Linked DNA regions of Homo sapiens. The protein of the gene in region 1 interacts with the protein of each later gene in a biochemical or structural test. Each region holds a gene or a part of one and is shown on either strand. Other genes may lie near its edges.

Evidence for each region.
Region 2: the proteins of PKN3 (region 1) and ARHGAP10 form a complex in vitro, tested with the Homo sapiens proteins (one study listed by BioGRID).
Region 3: the proteins of PKN3 (region 1) and PLD1 form a complex in vitro, tested with the Homo sapiens proteins (one study listed by IntAct).

What each region holds. Positions count from the first base shown.
Region 1 is NC_000009.12:128,697,056-128,705,502, reverse strand, and holds the start of PKN3 (serine/threonine-protein kinase N3), read right to left. Parts: upstream 3,001-8,447; 5' UTR 2,588-3,000; coding exon 2,564-2,587; exon of another isoform or gene 2,079-2,563; coding exon of another isoform or gene 2,034-2,078; exon of another isoform or gene 1,389-2,033; coding exon of another isoform or gene 1,374-1,388; intron 403-1,373; exon of another isoform or gene 201-402; coding exon 1-200.
Region 2 is NC_000004.12:147,874,587-147,882,976, forward strand, and holds part of ARHGAP10 (rho GTPase-activating protein 10), read left to right. Parts: intron 1-434; coding exon 435-564; intron 565-4,645; coding exon 4,646-4,752; intron 4,753-7,251; coding exon 7,252-7,346; intron 7,347-8,390. UniProt on the Homo sapiens protein: GTPase-activating protein that catalyzes the conversion of active GTP-bound Rho GTPases to their inactive GDP-bound form, thus suppressing various Rho GTPase-mediated cellular processes. Also converts Cdc42 to an inactive GDP-bound state.
Region 3 is NC_000003.12:171,599,267-171,605,236, forward strand, and holds the end of PLD1 (phospholipase D1), read right to left. Parts: intron 4,037-5,970; coding exon 3,812-4,036; 3' UTR 1,138-3,811; downstream 1-1,137. UniProt on the Homo sapiens protein: Function as phospholipase selective for phosphatidylcholine. Implicated as a critical step in numerous cellular pathways, including signal transduction, membrane trafficking, and the regulation of mitosis.

The DNA.
Region 1 (8,447 bases):
TGCAGCTCCCGCAGCTCGCCATGCAGCTGCTCCAGGCGGCGGTTGGAGGACCGCAGCAGCTGCTGCACATGGCCCAAGTGGCGGCGGTCTGTGGCCACGCGCCGCAGGTTCTCCACCCCCTCCTTGATCTTCAGCTCTTTCTGGATGGCCCGGCGGATCACCTCCTTCTCATCCTCTGGGGGCCACTGGCTCGGCCCAGGCTGCAGAGCCGGTGGAAAGCAGAGGGTGGAGAACAGCCATGGGGTGCAGCGGCCACCAGCAGCCTTTGCTCACTGCAGATGGAGGCGAAGGAAGGGACGGCACCCAGGACTGACTCGCACAGGGTTTTGGAAGCCTCTCTCCCCTTAGAGCTCAGGCCTGAGCCAGATGGAAACTCCGAGGCCACTCATCTAGGCCAGGCTCCTGTCCTCCGCCCGTTAGAGAAGGATGTGGCGGGGGGGACAGTTCACACGGTAAATGGGTGCCAGGTTCTATTCTAAGTGCTTTGCATATATTACCACATCACTCCTCCCAGCCACCCCACCCGGTAGCGGTGGTCATTACCCCCATTTTCTTTTTTCTTTTTCTTTTTCTTTTTTTTTTTTTTGAGACAGTTTTGCTCTTGTTGCCCAGGCTGGAGTGCCATGGCACGATCTCGGTTCACCACAACCTCTGCCTCCCGGGTTCAAGCGATTCTCCTGCCCCAGCCTCCTGAGTAGCTGGGATTACAGGCACACGCCACTAAGCCCGGCTAATTTTGTATTTTTAGTAGGGACGGGGTTTCTCCATGTTCGTCAGGCTGGTCTTGAATCCTGACCTCAGGTGATCCACCTGCCTTGGCCTCCCAAAGTGCTGGGATTACAGGTGTGAGCCACCACGCCTGTACTATTACCCCTATTTTCTAGTGAGGAAACTGAGGCCCAGAGAGGTGAAGTAACTTGCCCACAGTCAAGACACAGAGGAGGGGCCACCATCTCTCGGGCCCCAGCTGTCCCTGGCAGCCCTGGGTAATCAGGCTGCTCTCTCTACATCTGGGACCCAAAGTAGAGTCCAGGAGCCACAAAAGCTACGCCGAATAGGGGTTCACACGAAGCCACATGAGAAGGCAGCCAGGGGCCTGGGAGCCAGGGCTTGTTCCCCTGATGTCCCAATGCCACAGGTAGCAAAGCAGAGGCACAGAGAGGAACTGGGGAGGTCTCCGGGTGCCCACTCCCTGCTCAGCTCCCGGGAGGAAGTAGAAGGCTCTCTCACGGCTTCACCCAGGTTGGAGCCAGGAACAGGAACACCTCCTTTCCAGCCGCCAGCATTTCAAACCAACCGGTGCCAAAGGTGACCTCAGGCCGGGTAACCCATGATGCCCCGCAACACGGGCTGTTGCAGGAACCCCATCTTACCTCTCTGTGTTCCATCTTCTCCTGAGCCCAGTGGAAGGGGCCGCAACCCCAGACTCAGGGACCCCCCCACCCCAGACCTCAGCGGGGCCTGCTGGCCCAGCTGTCAGAGGGCAAGGGCGAGGCTCAGGAAATCCTCTGACCGCCCTAGGCCACAGGGCCAGAGCCAAAGACCGGAGCAAACAAAGGTCCCATGGAGCTGGGGGCCCGGCCACCGGGGTCCTGAGTCACCCAGCTGCCGCTGCAGGGCGGAGCCCCGCAGGAAATCGGAAAATGTGTACAAGCTACGTCTGGAACAGGCGGAGGGACCTCCAGAGGAAGGGGGTGGGAGGGGGCAGACCGAGCCCCAGCCCTGAAGGCGGCCTAAACGACTGGCTTGGGCGCTCAAGGAGTCTACACGCACCCCGCAACACCCCCATGGTCCCGTCTGCCCTGGGTTGGAACTCCAACATGGACACACACACCACCTCCTTTCCGCTCTTTGCGGGGACCCACTCCTGTCCGCAAATGCCCCCCTCCCAACCACTCGCTCCGGAACAGGACACCACCTCTCCCTCCTCAGGAGCAGATAGACATGGCCTCGGTCCTCCGGGCCCACGCGCACCTACTGCCAGCTCTGGCAGGAAACCCAGCCCCCTCCGCATTCTAGAACCCGCTATGTACCCAAAGGTTCCCGCCCTGGGGCGGGGGAGGCCGCTCCCCTCTCATCTACGCTCCCCTCGTGCCTCCTGTGCTCCGGGAAGGACTCCTGCCACTGCCAAGCGCGCACAGACTGCGCCCCCCGCTGCGCGCACATTCTAACCCCCCCAGGCCCCTGTGCCCCGCCTTTCTATCCCGGCTAATTCCCGTCGGCCTTGGAGCCCCACCGAGGAGAACCGACTTAAGGACACTCTGGGGACCACCCTGGTGGCGCACACTGCGGACTCAGCCGTCCTCGCTCACGGGCTGGTTGGGGTTCAGTCTCCGGGTCAGCCGCGGACTGATTTGGAGACTGTGCAAGGTCCAGGAACCACCGAACCCGGAGATCAGGTCTGCTCTGCGAGGGCGTCGCGGGGCCGGGGCCAGGGCAGGGGCAGGGAAGGGGCGCGGGTGAGGGGAGGATCGGGGGAAGCGGCCGCGGTTCGGGGCTCCGGGGCGATGACAGAGGCTTTCTCGCACCCCCCGGGCCCGCGCGCCCCTCCCACGCCGTTCACCTGCCGCGGCGCCCCCTCCTCCATGGCGCCGCTCCGGCCGCTTGGGGCCCTTCTCTCAGCCACTCCGGTCCCGGAAGCCGCAGACCCTCCGCCAGGACTTTCAAACTTGAAACTTCCCGGGAAGCGGCGCCGGAGACGCGGGATCGGGCGCCCCCTCCCGAGACCCGCTGGCCCGCGGGACCAGCGCCGCCTCCCGTCCGCGCCGATCCAGCGCCCGGGACCCCACGCCCGAGGTCCCGCGCCCCAGCGCCTCCCTCGGATCCAAAATTCCGCGGGATTCTGGGCCCAGTACCCGGGCTTCGGCGCCTGCGGTTCCCGCTGGGCGTGACCGCGCCTCACCCCCGGTTTGGACGCTCAGGAGGCACATCGCCCGCGCCCAGGTCCTCTGGCCTTCCCCGCCGCGCGCCCGCGGGAGCCGGCCAGTTAGGGACAGGGATGGGGGAAACAGCGCCCCCTGAAGGTTGCCGGGTCGCCCAGCCGGGTGCAGCCGGTGGAGCTGGCCGCCTCCTCTAACTTTGAGCCCCTCTACAACCTGGCTCCCGCCTCTAACGCGCTGGGCCTCCTCGACCAAGCCCCTCAAGTCTCTCTTTGTCTCGCACGTTGTTGGTGTAATGTGGGCTAATCCAAAATTGTCTCTCTCCTCGGAGTGGTTGGCCCAGACTAGATATTAGTCACTACAAGAATGTATACTAGGCCAGGTGCGGTGGCTCACGCCTGTAATCCCAGCAGTTTGGGAGGCAGAGGTGGACGGATCACGAGGTCAGGAGTTCGAGACCAGCCTGGCCAACATGGTGAAACCCCCGTCTCTACTAAAAATACAAAAATTAGCCGGTCGTGGTGGCGGGCGCCTGTAATCCCAGCTACTCAGGAGGCTGAGGTGGGAGAATCACTTGTACCCAGTAGGCGGAGGTTGCAGTGAGCCGAGATCCTGCCACTGCCCTCCAACCTGGGTGACAGAGCGAGACTCCATCTCAAAAAAAAAAAAAAAAAAAAAAAAAGAACGTATACTTGTGGAAAAGTAAATCCTCACCCAAAATTATGATAAATTACAAATTACAGATGAATGAACCAGACCTCTCTCCGGCCCATCTCTTACTCAGACTGAGCTTGCTGGTTCAGCCCGTGCCACTTTTTAGGGCTTTACCCTAAAAAGCCCATCCATCCACACGGGAGAAAAGCCATTTACACCTGGTGAAATAGCCGCCACTATTTCAGCCCAAGGGAGGTGTGCTGGTCACTGCCTAGTCTATGGCGGGCCATTCAGCCCGTCCTGGCATCCTGCGTTTACAGGAGGTTGTGTCAGCACTTCGTGGAGGAGCGTCCTCCAGGAGGTGGGAAGGTGATGAAGGGTCAAATACCGACAGTGACTTGGAACAGACAGGCTCTGGTGCTCTTACTGAATGAAGGAAGCCACATGTTGTGCTTTGCACTAATCACTTCCTTCATAATGGACTGGAAAAAAGTGAAATTGGTGAGCCATGGACAACACTGGGTTGTCCTGCTATGGGAAATCACCCAAGTGGCATTGACATATAAGCAAAGGCAACTTGGCTCTGTGAAACATGCCCAGATTTCATAATCAGAGGCGAAATGTGACATTTACACATTAGAGTTGTTGAGGTCTAGACATTAGCAGAAGCACCTGGCACATAGTAGGTTCTTTGACATGGGGGTTGGCTGGGCATGGTGGCTCATGCCTGTAATCCCAGCACTTTGGGAGGCTGAGGAGGGCAGATCACTTAAGGTCAGGAGTTCAAGACCAGCCTGGCCAACATGGTGAAATCCCGTCTCTGCTAAAAAAAAATTAAAAAGGCAGCTGGGCGCGGTGGCTCACGCCTGTAATCCTAGCACTTTGGGAGGCCGAGGCAGGCGGATCACAAGGTCAGGAGTTCGAGACCAGCCTGGCCAACATGGTGAAACCCCGTCTCTACTAAAACTACAAAAAAAAAATATTAGCTGGGCATGGTGGTGGGTGCCTGTAATCCCAGCTACTAGGGAGGCTGAGGCTGGAGAATCACTTGAACCTGGGAAGTGGAGGTTGCAGTAAGCCAATCTCGCCACTACACTCCAGCCTAGATGACAAGAGCAAAACTGCATCTCAAAAAAATACATAAAATAAAAAATTAGAAAAACTAGCTGGGCGTGGTAGCGCACGCCTGTAGTCCCAGCTACTCGGGAGGCTGAGGCAGGCAAATCACCTGAATCTGGGAGGCAGAGGTTGCAGCGAGCTAAGATCACGCCACTACACTCCAGCCTGGGCAACAGAGCAAGATTCTGTCTCAAGAAAAATAAATAAATAAAAATAAAATAAAATGGAGGTTAAATGAACGTTATTATCCATCATTTAGAAGCAAAAAGGCTGACCAAGCCCAGTGGCTCATGCCTGTAATCCTAGAACTCTGGGAGGCTGATGAGGCAGGAGGATTGCTTGAGGCCTAAGAGTTCAAGACCAACCTGGCCAACATAGTGAGACACCATCTCTTAAAAAAGTAAAATAAAGAAGTAAAAAAGTCCTCAGCTTCTCACTGCAGCTCATCAAAAACCCAGGAATCAAACTAACAAGCCTTCCCCACCTTTTAGGAATTCTCCAGTGGTGCAATCAGTCCAGCCAGCTAATTAACACTTTAAAATGTGTATTTGCCTTGATGGCTAAATGTTACTTCTGGAAGCCAAGAGTAATCTGAGATAACTCTCCATAGGAGGGTGCTCACATCTCAACTCCCGGCTCATTTATCCACTCACTGCAGGCAGGAAGCTGAATTCGATGGTTTTCCAAGTTTGGTTGGAAAGTGGCTTTGTTTTTTGTTTTTTTGAGAGAGTCTTGCTCTGTCACCCAGGCTGGAGTGCAGTGGCTCAATTTTGGCTCACTGCAACCTCCACCTCCCGGGTCCAAGTGATTCTCATGCCTCAGCCTCCTGAGTAGCTGGGACTACAGGCACATGCCACCACACCTGGCTAATTTTTTTTTTTTTTTTTTTTTCTTTGAGACGGAGTCTCGCACTTTCGCCCAGGCTAGAGTGTAGTGGCTGATCTCGGCTCACTGCAAGCTCCGCCTCCAGGGTTCACGCCATTCTCCTGCCTCAGCCTCCCGAGTAGCTGGGACTACAGGCGCCCACCACCACGCCCGGCTAATTTTTGTATTTTTAGTAGAGACGGGGTTTCACTGTGTTAGCCAGGATGGTCTCGATCTTCTGACCTTGTGATCTGCTCGCCTCGGCCTCTCAAAGTGCTGGGATTACAGGCGGGAGCCACCGCGCTCGGCACACCTGGCTAATTTTTTATATTTTTAGTAGAGATGGGGTTTCACCATGTTGGCCAGGCCAGTCTCGAACTCCTGACCTCACGTGATGCACCTGCCTCAGCCTACCAAAGTGCTGGGATTACAGGTGTGGCTGCCGCGCCCGACCTGGGGAGTGTTTTTCACCACCTTACACAGGGAAGCCAAGTCCTGGACTGCTGGATGAGTCTGACCAGGTAGTTGCACCTTACTTCTGATAGTGATAACACTTCATAAGACTGGAATTCTTAGGAAATTCGTGTTCAGCATTTAGTGGACCGTGAATAGTGCAAACCAACTCTCTAGCCAGTTGGCCTTTAAAAGACTATAACTCACTGGGCGCGGCGGCTCGCCTGTAATCCCAACACTTTGAGAGGCCGAGGCGGGCGGATCACGTAAGGTCGGGAGTTCAAGACCAGCCTGACCAACATGGACAAAGCCCGTCTCTACTAAAAATACAAAATTAGCCGGGGTGGTGGCGCATGCCTGTAATCCCAGCTACTCAGGAGGCTGAGGCAGGAGAATCGCTTGAAACCGGGAGGTGGAGATTGAGGTGAGCTGAGATCGCGCCATTGCACTACAGCCTGGGTAAAAAGGGCAGAACTCCATCTCAAAAAAAAAAAAAAAAAAAAGACTATAACTCAACTGAAAGGAACCTAAAACTTGTCAACAGGCTGCATGAGGAAACATTTTCCCCCTTCCATGAATACAATTTTTTCCTTCTTGGTGTTGCAACCAATTTTTGTTTTTTCTGAGACGCCATCGCACTCTGTCGCCCAGGCTGGAGTGCAGTGGCACGATCTCAGTTCACTGCAACCTCCGCCTCCTGGGTTCAAACAATTCTCCTGCCTCAGTCTCCCAAGTAGCTGGGATTACAGGCGCCCACCACCATGCCTGGCTAATTTTTGTATTTTTAGTAGAGATGGGGTTTCCCCATGTTGGCCAGGCTGGTCTCGAACTCCTGACCTTGTGAACACCCACTCAGCCTCCCAAAGTGCTGGGATTACAGGCGTGAGCCACCGCGCCTGGCCCTACAACCAGTCCATTTTTATTTCGGTTTGTCTCTGGGTAGAATCTGAGCACACAATGTCACCAACTACAGTTGGTCTATACCCTCCACTTTAAAAGTCCTTGCTATTCTGCAGCCCTTTGCCTCAGGCCTATTAAAAAGTAAACTTGTGCTGGGCGCGGTGGCTCACGCCTGTAATCCCAGCACTTTGGGAGGCCAAGATGGGTGGATCATGAGGTCAGGAGATCAAGACCATCCTGGTTAACAAGGTGAAACCCCGTCTCTACTAAAAATACAAAAAATTAGCCGAGTGTGGTGGCCAGTGCATGTCGTCCCAGCTACTCGGGAGGCTGAGGCAGGAGAATGGTGTGAACCCGGGAGGTGGAGCTTGCAGTGAGCAGAGATCATGCCACTGCATTCCAGCCTGGGCAACGGAGCCAGACTCCGTCTCAAAAAAAAAAAAAAAAAAAAAAAAAGGAGTAAACTTGTGACTGGCCGGGCACTGTGACTCACGCCTGTAATCCCAGAACTTTGGGAGGCCCAGGCGGGCAGATCACGTGAGGTCGCGAGTTTGAGACCCGCCTGACCAACACGATGAAACCCCATCTCTACTAAAATATGAAAACTAGCTGGGTATGGTGATACGTGCCTGTAATCCCAGCTATTCAGGAGGCTGAGGCAGAAGAATGGCTTGAACCTGCTAAGTGGAGGTTGCAGTGAGCTGAGATCGTGCCACTGCACTCCAGCCTAGGCGACAGAGTGATACCTCTGTCTCAAAAACAAATAAAATGAAATCACTGGAGAAACAAAAACCGAGATGGTCTAAAGCAGAATATTCCTTAAGGTTTTGAAACTAGATGTAAGGACATCTTGCAAGCTACTGCCCTCCATCCTAATTCATGCAGTTATTAAATACCCCTCATAAACCAAATACAGCACAGCTTGGGAACACAGCCCCTTCCTAAACAGCCATTATTACTCTTGTCTTGTTTTGAACAGGGTCTTCTTGCTCTGTGGCCCAGGCTGAAGCACGGTGGCAAACTCATAGCTCAGTGCAGCCTCAAAACTCCTGGGCTAAGGCAATCCTGCCCCAGCCTCTCAAGTAGCTAGGATTAGCCTAGCGCCACCACACCTGTTTTTTTGTTTGTTTGTTTTTTAATGGTAGTGTTGGGATGTCCCTGTCATCCAGGTTGGCCTAGAGCTCCTGGACTTACACGATCCTTCAGCCTGGGCCTCCCAAAGTACTGCAATTACAGGTATGCGCCACTGTGCCCAACTTCTATTTTCTATTTTCAAATGTCCTTGAGAAAAGGAGCTGAGCCCATTCCAATACACACTAAAGACCAGCCCAAGAACTTGTCTTGCAGTTGGACACAAGGCATGCTGGCTACTGTGTATGGAAGTTTTTGGTACAGTAAGGTTGCCATTTTGTTTTCTCACAGCCTAGTTCTCTTACAAGATTTGCAGATATTAGTGGCACCTCAGGAGATCACAATAGTTGAGTGAACTACTACTACCTTAAAGGGCTCCCGATTTTTTACATTCCCGAAAATAAACGTTATTGTGACCTATAACCTGACAGCCCTAGACGCTCACCA
Region 2 (8,390 bases), on another chromosome or scaffold:
TACAGACTGCTAATGTAACAGTAACAAAACAGATTGATTGAGTCAGATTGGTTGTTGCAAAGGAAATTCTTCTCAGGTAGCTATATTAAAACCTAACTTATGTTTTAAACCTAAAATTTAGTAATAGTGTGAGACCTGAAGGCAGGAATTTTTATGTTGAATAGTAAAATTATTAATGGTGTTAGAAAGCCTCCAAAGTAACCTGTAGTAACCTTGGCTTATACTCCTCTGGTAGCTATTTTACTGCTATTTTTTTTTCTTTGCACATGAATCTCAGGAGGCACACTGGAAAGAATGGGGGTATTTTGAGAAATTTATAAAAAAGTTATTTAGAGTTAAAAAATGTAATTACATTTATGCAGAGACTTTAAAATGTTCATGAGAAAACTCATATGAGAACTTAACATTTATGTGTGTTTTTTAATCCATTTCAGACACGGAATCGATTTGAAGGAACAAGGTCAGAAGTGGAAGAGCTCATGAACAAAATCAGACAGAATCCCAAGGACCACAAACGAGCAAGTCAGTTTACAGCCGAAGGCTACCTGTATGTCCAGGAAAAAAGTAAGAGGCCCTCCAGCAGTGGCTGCGTGGCTGCTTAAAAATGCAAATTATTGAAAACTCTGCTATTCTTGCCATTACTGTGACATTTTGGGCAATTATTCCTACCTCTTTCTCTCCCTGCTCCTATCACCTAATGGGTGTATATTTCATGTTTAGGAGAAACACATTCCAGCCCTGGAGAGAGGGGGTACTGTGAGGTTAGGAGTGGCTGTGAGCACCCTGTTCTTCAGACACCCCACTAGCTTCTGTTTTACACTGTGTGCACCCCAGGAACATGCTTGTAAGAGAGTCAGAATTTGGTGTAAGGCTGAAAATGAGCCAGAGTTACGAGGGTATGATGTTTTTTCTCCTTCCCCCTCACCTCTACCCTCATCACCAATGCACACAGGCACACACATTCATTCATACACACGTATACGTCCTCTCCCTCCCATAACCCTGCCTCTCTGTCATCTTAAGGTCAAGAGGGACATATTAGTATTTTTCTTCTTCCTTCATACCATTTTTGTTCCCACCAGTCTGAGATAGCTGGTTCTTACTAAAATCATCAGGAAGATTGCAGATGGTGATAAAAGATATTCCTACGTGGCATCCTAACTTGTAGGCTTTTTAGTCTTTGTTGCTGTCTTAGCAAATATGCAGTGCATAGATTGTTCTCATTTTGAAAATTAAAAGACCTGTATTTCTTTCAGACTTTGAACATTTGGTCTTATTTTAACAGCTAAGTTCTTAACGTTTACTACGTCAACTGTACAACCCAATTGCTAGTTAGCAGAAGGGATGAGAATGTGAAATGGGTCTCTTTACTATTTCCCTCCCTCTCCACCCTTAACTGTGATTAGGGTGTTTTACAGTTTTCACTTCATTTAAGTGTGGCTGATTTACAGGACTTTCAATCCGACCTAAAAATTTAGTGGTAGACATGACTCAGGGAACGGTTACAGGGTATCTGTGCTTTGAATAGAAGTTAATGTTCTATGCAGGCAGCAGGATGGTTGTGCCTTTTCCATTTGCCCTTATTTAATCTGGAATCTCGCAGCCTTCACCTTTTGTGAGCAGTTGTATGATATGGCAGAAGTCTCCATTTTTCTCATACATTATCTTCTTAATCTCAGTTTTTAAAATTGAATTTGAAAGAAATAAATTAAAACTCAAGATAGGGCTGGGCGCGGTGGCTCACACTTGTAATCCCAGCACTCTGGGAGGCCGAGGTGGGCAGATCACGAGGTCAGGAGATCGAGACCATCCTGGCTAATACAGTGAAACCCTGTCTCTACTAAAAAATACAAAAAATCAGCAGGGCGTAGTGGCGGGCACCTGTAGTCCCAGCTACTCGGGAGGCTGAGGCAGGAGAATGGCGTGAACCTGGGAGGCGGAGCTTGCAGTGAGCCAAGATCGCGCCACTGCACTCCAGCCTGGGTGACAAAGCAAGACTCTGTCTCAAAAAAAGGAAAAAAACAAAACAAAACAAAAAACCACCTCGATAGTCTTGAGAATGTTAGAATTATTTGTATTATATGCCCAAGTGAAAATCACAGGAAACTTTAATTTTTAGATTCATCACTGTTGCCTTTGAGAGAAATTGGACTGAAACAACATAACAGTAGTGGTAAAATTCTTTCCTCATTTACTGTATACCCAGCACTGTGCTAAATTCGTATACAACTTGTCTCATTTATCCATAAAACAGCCCTATGAAGTATAAGGTACTATTACTGTTGCCCATTTATAAATGAAAATGGAGGCACTGAGAGGTAAATAATGTTCCCTAGGTCATACAACTACTAAATGCTGGAGTTGTCATTCTGAACCTGGAGTCTGTGTTGGTAATGTCTCCCGTAAATTGCTTGGCGCTTGAACAGGCGTGAAAGAGCATCATTAGTGTGTATGCCCAGAGCTGGTTGAATAGGCCCTGTTGGTTGTCAGAAGGGAATGGTGGCTTAAGTAGTGGAAAGACCTTGATATTTGGGGCCAGAGATTCTGATTTAAGGTTTGGCTTTGTCATTTTCCAGGCATTTGGGCTAAGCTTAAATTTTTTTTGGATTAAATAGACAGTATCATCCTCTCTGGGCAGTTTTTTTTTTCTTAGAGTTAAATAAAATATCTGTGCAATATTTTTTTTGTCAACCATAGAACACAGTACAAATGCTGGTTCTTTAAAACACAAAGCAATGTTTCCCAAATTCAGGTCTTTGGACTGATGATGGTCTGAGATAAAATTGATAGTGGTCTGGTAACCCTTTTCATCTATTACCCCTGTCCCAAATAATGTAATTAGCTTTTCCTAAAGCTAGCTAAAAGCATTCCTTTTACATGAGTTATTTTTCCCCTCCTGGGCTTTTTTGATTTTTAGGTGTAGAAACTTTGTTTGTTTGTACATGAAATTACTGTGATAACAGATGTTAATTGCTTTTTTAAAAGTGTCTTGACTCAGTAAAGTAAGAAATTGTCAACTTCTGCTGGGCCTAACCTTTAATTTGTTATGGTTGGACTTTTATTGGCATGTGAAGTTCCAGATGCTAGAGGTCCCTCTGACATACAGCATTGTCCTGTGAGCCCTGATGGTGGTACTGCTGACTTAGTAAGAGTGGAAAAGGGGTTCAGAGAGTGTTCTGGGGCATACTTGGACAGTCACTCCTATTGAGTCTTAGATTTCTTATTCTTCATACTTTTTTTTTTTTTTTGCTGAGATTACAGGCATGAGCCACGAGGCCCAGCCATTCTCTTGGTTCTTAAGATTTTTTTAGACCTTACTGATTACAGTAATGTTAAGCCAGACAATACCAATGTTATTTTATTTTATTTTTTGACAGTGTTGCTCTGTCACCCAGGCTGGAGGGCAGTGGCACGATCTCATCTCACTGCAACTTCCGCCTCCTGGGTTCAAGCCATTCTTCTGCCGCACCCTCCCCAGTAGCTGGGATTACAGGCACGCACCACCACGCCCAGCTAATTTTTTTTTTTTTGGAGACAGAGCCTCTGTCACCCAGGCTGGAGTGCAGTGGCGCGATCTCAGCTCACTGCAACCTCTGCCTCCTGGGTTCAGCCTATTCACCTGCCTCAGCCTCCCGAGTAGCTGGGACTACAGGCGCGTGCCACCACGCCTGGCTAAATTTTTTGTATTTTAGTAGAGACAGGGTTTCACAACGTTGGCCAGGATGGTCTCCATCTCCTGACTTCGTGATCCACCCGCCTTGGCCTCCCAAAGTGCTAGGATTACAGGCGTGAGCCACTGCGCCTGGCCCATACTTCATTTTTAAAGGCTAGCTTTCAATCATCAGTAAGAGCAGCTGCTTACTAGGATGCTGTTCATGGACTTAAAGCACTAGGTGGATTTTTAGACTAGATGCTTCTTAGCACTATGATTCTATAATTCTATCATTTTGAGAGGCCAGAATTAAATCCCAAACCATCTCATATATGGGATGGAACTTTTGAAACCCTTGTGAGCTCTTAATACCTAGAAACAAACAAAAAATAGAGCTTACAATTAAGAGATTTTCAGATAGGACATAACTGTTGATTTTTCTAGCAAACTATTTAAACAGTATGTCTTTAAATCACTTCTGTCTTGCTAAATCTTAGAGGTTTGTTTCAAAGTATCTCTTATTTTCCTTCTTCCTCTTTTTTTTTTTTTTTTTTTTGAGTCGGAGTCTCGCTCTGTTGCCCAGGCTGGAGCGCAGTGGCGCGATCTCGGCTCACTGCAAGCTCTGCCTCTTGGGTTCACACCATTCTCCTGCCTCAGCCTCCCGAGTAGCTAAGACTATAGGCGCCTGCCACTATGCCTGGCTAATTTTTTTTAGTAGAGATGGAGTTTCACCGTGTTAGCCAGGATGGTCTCGATTTCCTGACCTTGTGATCCACCCGCCTCGACCTCCCAAAGTGCTGGGATTACAGGCGTGAGCCACCGTGCCCGGCCTCCCCTCTTCTTCTTAGAACTAGCAGTATTGCTGATTTGTTTCATTGATTCAGCTGTATTCGTTGCTGCGTTTTAGACATTTCCTCTTTAGTAATGTGTTTATAGCTCTGCAAATCTGCTTATTTATGAGGGAAAATATAAAGGGCTGTTTTTTTGTTGAAGGGCCTGCTCCGTTTGGTTCCAGTTGGGTCAAACACTATTGCATGTATCGAAAAGCAGCAAAGAAGTTCAACATGATCCCATTTGAGCACAGATCTGGAGGGAAACTTGTAAGTATTTGATTCAACATAGAATAGATTATAATCTGTCAGAGGTAGTGTTTGAGGGTGTCATTTTAATGGTTTATATTTTAATGGTTTATATTCATGGATGGTAAATAAATTGTTAGTATTAAAATCTTTGTTTTGTTTTTGAGTGAAATGGGCCAGAAGACAGAACAATATATATGTTTTCTGAATTACATGCATGGGTTTTAAACCACTAGATTTTTTTTTTTTTAAGTTCTGGGATACATGTGCACAACGTGCAGGTTTGTTACATAGGTATGCATGTGTCATGGTGATTTGCTGCACCCATCAACCCATCATCTACATTAGATATTTCTCCTAATGCTATCCCTCCCCTAGCCCCCAGCCCCCTCACAGACCCCAGTGTGTGATGTTCCCCTCCCTGTGTCCATGTGTTCTCATTGTCAGCTCCCACTTAAGAGTGAGAATATGTGGTTTTAACCACTAGATATTTTTTAGGTGAACAATAGAATCCTTTTTATGCCACTGTTTGGAAGATAAAGGTAACACTGACAGCAAGCTTTCATGACTCAGTGGTTCCTCAGCATTTATACAATGGAACTGACTTGCTGTTCATAGCCTGAAAACAAAGAAGAGTGATCTACGATAAATTTTACTGTTGTTCTGTTCATCTTACAAAGTTCTCACATAGGTATTCACCATTTAGTTAACTGTTCCCCCTGAAACTAAAACAGCAAAGCATGATAGTAAGAAAAGAGCAAGAAGACCTCACAGAGTTGGCTGTGTAGGAAAGGTGATCTTTATATGTATTTTAAATGGAATCTGCAGCTTATTACAATAATTAATGGCCTAGAGACAAAGCTTCCCACCAATGTTGAACATAATTGATAACACATTTTAAGAAAGCAGCTTAATTCATTGCTTACTGGGTGAATGGGTATGGTTTTGCTTAGGTGAATAAAAAAAGAAAAACCTATGTTCACTTCTATTTACTTGTACTATGCCTTTCCCTGAAAAATATTTAAAGCAGCTTTTAATAAAAACACATTTATATAATAATGAAACAGACATGGAAAATTAGTCATGGTGAGGAGAAGGAAGTGAGGAGATGGCTCTTGAAGCATCAGGTTTGAGACTGAGTTTCCTGTCAGAGCCAGTTCAAGTCCTAAGATATTTCTGCTTAGTGATATCTTTCTGTTTTAGCCTCCAAATAATAATGATAAATATGTTATGGAATATAACTGTGAGATTTTGAATATTTGTGTATCTTAATGTTTGTTACTTAGAGATCTTCACGTTCTGGAAAATGTTAAAATGTTCAATAAGTGTGTACTCACACTTTATATAGTTGTTCTTTTACTGAGCACTTGTATTTCTGCATTGCAAATTAAGTAAAGATAAATTCAGGGTGATTCACATAGGGAAGAGAGAAATTGCATAGATTAAATGGTTCTAGCTTTAGATTATGAAAATATTTAATCTAGGGTTATCGGTGTACTTTTAGGCTGACGTGTATGGAATTGCAATTTTTATAGGCCAAAAATAGTCACATATTTTTTGTGACATGTGGTAAGAAATAAATTTTTACACTAAAAAAAAGAGTACAATAAGAGACTAACAGTATTCCAGTATCTTAAAACTGTACTGTTAATCTACCTTTGAAAATTAACATTTGGCCAGGGACACTGGCTCACGCCTGTAATCCCAGCACTTTGGGAGGCCGAGGTGGGCAGATCACTTGAGGTCAGGAGTTTGAGACTGGCCTGGCCAACATGGTGAAATCCTGTCTCTACTAAAAATACAAAAATTAGCCAGTCATGGTGATGCACACCTGTAATCCCAGCTATTTGGGTGGCTGAGTCACAGAGTTGCTTGAACCCAGGATTCGGAGTTTGCAGTGAGCTGAGATTGCACCACTGCACTCCAGCCTGGGCAACAGAGCAAGACTGTCAAAAAAAAAAAAAAGTAACATTGGTATTGTCTGGCATAACATTACCATCATCAGTAAGGTCTAGAAAATCTTAAGAATCAAGAGAATGGCTGGGCGCGGTGGCTCACGCCTGTAATCCCAGCACTTTGGGAGGCTGAGGCGGGTGGATCATCTGAGGTCAGGAGATTGACACCAGCCTGGCCAACATGGTGAAACCCTGTTTCTACTGAAAATACAAAAATCATCCAGGTGTGGTGGTGCATGCCTGTAATCCCAGCTACTCTGGAGGCTGAGGCAGGAGAATCACTTGAACCTGGGAGATGGAGGTTGCAGTGAGCCAAGATCCTGCCACTGCACTCCAGCCTGGGTGAAAGAGCGAGGCTCCCTTCTCAAAAGAATCAGGAGAATGACAAAAATATTAATATTTTAGATTCTAAATAGCATTTAAATAAGCCAGTTTGAAAGAGGATAGGGTAAAGAGAAGGACTTAAGATCTTGAACCTTGCTCCCCTGCTCTCCAGTATAGAATGGCTGAGTGTGTATATACTTATCCTGTAGGTTTTGAGAATGTTCAAAATGATTATTTGCAGGGGGACGGAGAGGTGTTCTTTTTGAAAGAATGTACCAAGAGGCATACTGACTCCATTGACAGAAGGTTTTGTTTTGACATAGAAGCTGCTGATCGGTAAGTTATTGGAATTATTGGACATGGTGAAAGAGTCGTTTTAAAAAAATGATTTAAAAAAATAGAGGTTAGTTGCAACTGTGATTTCTGTGGCCTGGGAGAATGTTATCTTGCTATATTTCCAGGCTGTGTGTTCATTATAAGCTGTTTAGTCTTGATCACCGGGTTTAGCTATGGGGTGATAGTTTCATCTTGATTTAGTTAGGAGTCATTCTAACCAGGGTTGTCACTTAAAAAATAACCTTGGAGGCCAGGTGCAGTGGCTCACACCTGTAATCCCAGCACTTTGGGAGGCCGAGGTGGGCAGATTATGAGGTCAGGAGTTCAAGACCATCCAGGCCAAAATGGTGAAACTCTGTCTCTACTAAAAAGACAAAAAAATTAGCCAGGCGTGGTGGCATACACCTGTAGTCCCAGCTACATGGGAGGCTGAGGCAGGAGAACCATTTGAACCCAGGAGGCGGAGGCTGCAGTGAGCCAAGATGGTGCCACTGCACTCCAGCCTGGGCGACAGAGTGAGACTCCGTTTCAAAAAAAAAAAAAATTGCCTTGGAGCTTTTCATTGTTGATCCAAGCCTAATTTGTAGCATGAAGAGAACAATGGCGAGAGGAACTGGGTGACAAAGCTAAAAAGGGGTGATAGGTAGCTAGCTACTAATACAGAACAACATTCATTTGTGTGTGGGGGGGTTTTCAGTGTCTACATCCTGTACGTGATGGAGGGTCTTAGGCAAACTCCTTCTGTTTATTCAAAGGTGAATTCTTTTTTTTCCTTATTGCATGACTTCCAGTTATTTAGTTGTAAAAGAATCTTTGCCAGAGAGGAAGAAGTAGAAGAGAAAATTTTGTTCATCAGTATTACTACTTGTCTGGCATTAATTTCTATGTCCTCCAGTAGCATTAAGGAAAATCCTAGTGTTCATAGAATATTTGCTTTTTAATGGCTGACAGTACAGTGATTCCTTGCCAGCCCTGGTTTTGGCAGTGATAGTTTTTAGGTAAGGCTGTTCTATGTTTGTATAATAAAAGCTTATGAGATTTGTT
Region 3 (5,970 bases), on another chromosome or scaffold:
GCTCACACAAACAGGCCATGTGAGCACACGGTAAGAAGGTGGCCGACAAGCCAGGAAGAGTCCTCACCAGAAACCTACCATACAGGCACCTTGATTTCCAACTTCCTGTCTCTGGAATTGTCAGAAAATAAATTTCTGTTGTTTAAGTCACCCAGTCTAGAGCATCTTGTTTTGGCAGCCTGAGCAGACTAATATAAGGCCTGATTTTTTTTCCAGAATACTTTTTCTTGTCTTTTGAAATAATTTTTACATAACAAGAAGGTGCTGTGGTAGGGGATAGAGACTGAAGGAATAAGGAATGAGGAGGCCAGTGCGGTGGCTCACGCCTGCAATCCCAGCACAGGGGAGGGAGCTCAAGCAATCCGCCTGCTTGGCATTGGGATGGAAAAATGCTATCTGTACAAACAATACGAAAATTAGCTGGGTGTAGTGGCATGCACTTGTAGTCCCATCTACTCAGGAGGCTAAGGTGGGAGGATTGCTTGAGCCCAGGAGGCAGAGGCTGCAGTGAGCTGAGATCACACCACTGCCAGCCTGGGCCACAGAGCAAGACCCAGTCTCAAAAAAAAAAAAAAAAAAAAAAAAAAAAAAGAGAAAAGAAAACAAAGAAAAAGAAAAAAAAAGAAATGAGGAGATGCAGAAAAAGTTCAGGCTCTATATACATAAATCTATTTTTCCTAGTCTTATATCCGCAAAATGACTTCTCAGCTTGTTGTTTTTGTCTGGAAAAGTATTAATTCATGATATTATAATTTCCCAAGTTCTTACATAAGAAATTAACTGTCCATATTTTGAGTACTTACAGACAAAATTTCCTTTCAAAAGTGCTTTGAAAATAAACATTTTGTTTTACAGTATGCCACACAATTATCTAATGACCAGCTCTCTATGCCTCCCTGTGATGCATTCCAGGTAAGAATTAAAAACATCCCACCGAAGGGTGAGTCATGGGCTGGACACTAGATTCAGAACAAACGCCCGCACCAGACTTGCTATGCTAAGGCTATCCTCCGACGACTGAACGTGGCCAATCTGAATAGCTTTAATACACCATGGCCACTTTCCATCATTCATTTTTTGTAATACTAGAATTTTTCCCTCTTGAAAACAAAAATTATTACAGAAATTAGCAGGATGTCAGGTATATAGCATTTATAGGCATTTCAAAATAGTCACTTTGAAATGTTGAGCAGATTCATGATAGATTTTCAAGGCTTTGAATTATTTACATTTTAAAAAGTTTATCAGATATTGCAATGTTAAAGATAAATTATTTGAACTTCTAGTAGGTAGTAATGGTGTCAGAGAATGACAGGTAATTAAGTCATACAGTACATCTTGTGTCCACATTTCATGCAATTTTTGCAGAATGCTGTACTATGTAAACTGCTACTGCAAAAAAAAAAAAAAAAGCAATTATTGCACTGAATTTTCCATAAAATCCCTCCAAGTAAATCTTATCACCCCTTTGCAGATGAGCATCTTGTCTTTGGGAAGATGCAATAGAAAAGGAACTTGCCATAGAAAGCAGTAGTAAGACTTCTTATATGAGACTAAGATTTTCATTTCATTAGCTCTCTCCTTCACCTTGTTTATTAATTCTACAAGCATTTATTGCCATCTCCTATGTGCCAAGCACTGGTCCAGGCTCTGGGGATACACTATGAACAAAATACAGTGAAGTCCCTGCCCCATGGAGCTTACATTCTAGTAGGGGGAGACAGACAAACACATAAATACAAAATATCAGAGGGTTCAAAACAGCTTAGAGGTATCTTGCCTGAATTCTGTTTACTGCATATCCTCATTCTTGGGCAATGATAAAGTGAAGAGAGAGGCCAACAATGGGCTGCAGCAATGTTGCTAGTCCCAGCTCTACCATCTACACATTGAGTGGATTTAAGTGAGTTCTCATCTGATCTGAGCCTCAGTTTCCTCATCTATAAAATGGGGAGAAATTGGATTAAATTACTTATAAGGGAAAGGGTCCTTTCAGGCTTTTTTCATGAGAGTAGGGTGCTGAAAATCAAGAGCCAGTTTGTTGACTCCTCTAAGGTTTAAAAAATATTTAAATATAAAATCTAAGAAATCCTTAGAGATCCCATACACTCAATACTTCAAATGCCAATCTGAACTTCTTTCATCAATAGCAAATTCTTATTTACAATGGCTATAGAATGAAGTCATTTTACCATCTTTAGCCATATGAAAAATAAGTTATTTACTTATAAAAACATTCATTTTTATTATTGGTTACAAAATCTCACCTTATTTGTGAAATGTTCCCTAGCTATGAGATCCTGCCCTTGATGTGACACTATTTCTCTCTTCTGCTAACCCCTATCCCTGACTTTGTGCTCCTGTTTAATTTTTCCAACTGAAGTATTAGCTTTATGAAAACAGGGATCGGCTGCTTGCTTCTTTGAAGAACAACCCAAATGAGAGTATGTCCAGGTAATCCATAGACATGTATAATCATTACACCTGCATTTTGTTTTACAGGTACAGGCCTTTTGGTAACCCACATTAGCTCTTTAGACTGTCAGAGTTGTTCAGCTTAGTAAAATTTAGTTTATCAAAGGGTACTCTAACATCCGAAAAGGAAAAACACGTTTCCAGACTAATTCACAGACTAGGGCATTGTAACTTCACTGGAAGCCCTGGTGAGAGGCGTTAATACATATTTAATAATGTAAGTGAAGTAGCACATATTTTATAATCAATTAATTTTTCTCAAAGAAGATAATGTAGCAGAAGACCTGAATGTCAAACAAGGTTAGACTCATACTTACTAACTTGGTAGGAGTTACGATGCCTCTGATTCTCTTGAAAGACAAACTGTATTCACTAGTTTGATTTTGAAATGTAGAGATCAAATTTCAATCAACCCAGCAGCTAAGGATGACAGGAAATTTTACAGGACTAGAAGGAATCATCTTCTCTTATCTGGATCTGATCCTCCTCGACACCTTGGGGGTTTCCGAAGGCTGTGTGCTCTCAGTTTTAGCTGGTTGTTACGTAATCAAATATCCCATGCATGTTTTTACATTTGATCAGGTGGGCCTAATCACAAGGACTCATGTTGTCAGTGCCTTTGGGAGCAAAATGAAATAAATCTCTGTCTCAATATTGGAATTTATTCCTTCCTGTTGCTTAGTGGTGTCAAGATACAGTGTCAATGTTACCAGAAGTGCCTAACACAGTCTACTGTGTAGGCTAAAGTCTGCCGTGTTCGTACAGTGACTGAAAAGGAATAATGACTATATCCTCATTTGGGTGAATGTTACTACTTCAGGACCAGATGAGCAGGGGCATCCCATGTAACCATGAAGAATCTTGAAGCAGCATTACAACATCTAATAATAAACAATCTCTCAAACAGTGCCTGTATGAACTGCAAGATGAGGGCAGGTCCAGCTAGACATTGGCTGCATAAATGAAGATCAGAGAAGAATAAGGAGATTCAGACAACTTTTGGCAACCTAGATCACAGTTACTGGTAAATTCTTGTTACAAAGGAAATGGATTTTGGTATACGGAATTTGAATATGTGTTTTACTCAACAGAGTACATGCTACCAACAAGAATGCAGCCCCCTTTTTACAAGTTAGGCAGAAGGAATTATAAAGTCTTGCTGATGTTTACAGTCCTTACATCAATGTGACTGCAGCCCTCCCCAGTCATTCCAAAAGGTCCTTGGGTTGGATACGAGAATGCGTCAGGCCTGGCTTTGGCTATGACATCCCCAGGAAGTCACTGTGTGCAGTGTGGTCTCCAGGGTGGAAGTCTTTGAGCTGCCAATGAATATCTCTTAAGTCCAAACCTCCATGGGCACTATGGCCTCTTTGGTCCCAACAGAAGGCAGTAGGCTTTCTTCAGACAAGAAATAAAAGGGGAATTGCACCAAAAATCCACGGATCTTCTTCAGTTCCTCCTCAGCTCGAATGGGATCTTCCTTAGCTAATACGGGCTTGTTTATAAAGTCTCTCAGCTGAATTAAATTGTGTACTTCATCATTGGGAAGGCACCGGAAAACCTGATTAGAGCATAAATAGAAAAATGAGTGAAAAGTTTAAAAGCGAGCACATGGCCTTTATGGAAAATAATTATTCCAACAGACAAGACCTCTGTTGTATGAAACATATTATTAGTCTTATGTTACAGCACAGACCTGATTTAAGAGTTGGTTATCTTATAACCAACAATAGATAGATCTGCTACAAACAGATAGATCTGCTTCCATTTAAAAAATCATGGTTAGTGGCAAGAAATTACACTAATGTTACCCCACATTAAGGTTAATTTTTTTTGGATAATAATCATCCCTGAATTTCACTGGAGCTTCTGGTCTAAGAGGAATATTGCATATTATATTTTCCCTAACTTTTCTTGAAAGAGGCTCATATCTGTACCTTTACATAGCATTATCAATTGTTAATATGTAACACTTACTTTGCTGGTTGAAAATGAGTTTTGGATATCATAACACTTCACCCCTGAATACTTCTCTGCAGGTATGTCTTAAGAATAAGGACATGTGCCTATATAATCACAGCACTATTCTCACACCTAAGAAAATTAATTATATAATGTCATTTAAGTTATGCTTCATATTCAGATTTATCCTGTTATCCCCAAAATGTCTTTTATAGATGTTTTCCCCCAAATCCAGGACCCAAATAAGGCTGTGCACTGCATTTGTAAAATTACATTTTAATGACTCTATGCACATGACCTATTTGATCATGGCCTTCGGTCCATGAAATAAGGATGAAATAAGGTTATACAGGGGTCAGGCGCATTGGGTCATGCCTGTAATCCTAGCACTTTGAGAGGCCAAGGCAGGCGGATCACTTGAGGTCAGGAGTTCAAGACCAGCCTGTATCATAATACAAAAATTAGCTGGGTGTGCTGGTGGGCACCTGTAGGCCCAGCTACTCGGGAGGCTGAGGCAGGGGAATCACTTGAACCCAGGAGGTAGAAATTGCAGTGAGCCGAGATCATGCCACTGCACTCCAGCCTGGGCAACAGGGTGAGACTCCATGTCAATTAAAAAAAAAAAAAAAAGGAAAGAAAGAAAAGAAACAAGGTTATACAGACAGTAGACATGTTTCATTAAGAATAATAAGTTTCTCTGCTGGAAGGGGCTCTAAGAGAAAAATTGCGTATTTTCCCTAATTTTTTTTTTTAAAGAGGTTCACGTCTGTCCCTGGAAGTCATGAAGAAGAACACAGACTTATCCAACTTCTCACAGATGGTCAATTAGTCTGGGCTAGAACACAGCTTGAATAGTTTTCCCTGATGGGCAACTAGCTACTTTTCGAAGTAAGCTGTTCTACTGTTACGCAACTCTTAACTCTTTTACATTCTTTATTATAACCAAAGGATAGACTTCACAGGCAATGCATTTGGTATGCATCAAATGGAGCCGGTTTTAAAACACCTTTCTAAAACTAGAGCTGTCCAACAAATGACATGTCTTGTTATTAATATTAACAAGATTCATCATAAGGATGAATACTGTTTACTATACACTATGTGCTAAAACCATTCACTAGACTATTCTTTGTCCTCATAACTACCCTTGTGAATATTCCTCCCAATTTATAGGAGAGGAAAAAGAAACTCAGAAAGTTAAGTCACTATACACAAGGTTATAACACCAGCAACGGGGTGAGCTAGGCTGGACTCAGCTGTGGCTTGTTTTTTTATGCCATCTGCCCCTCTTCTCTTTGTCACTAGACATGTACAAAGGCTGGGTAACCAGGTGCTAAGGATGCTGCTGATGGGATTCCTGCATCACAGGAGAGACTGGAATGCTGCTAAAGCCTCTTCTAAACCAAAATCCACAATGCTTTTTGCCTTTGTTTTTCAGGGTCCACAAAGAGGTATTTTATTACAACCTGGACATGTATTAGCTTTTTTACGTTTATTAAGAATACCCTGTACCAATAATATGCAGAAATAACA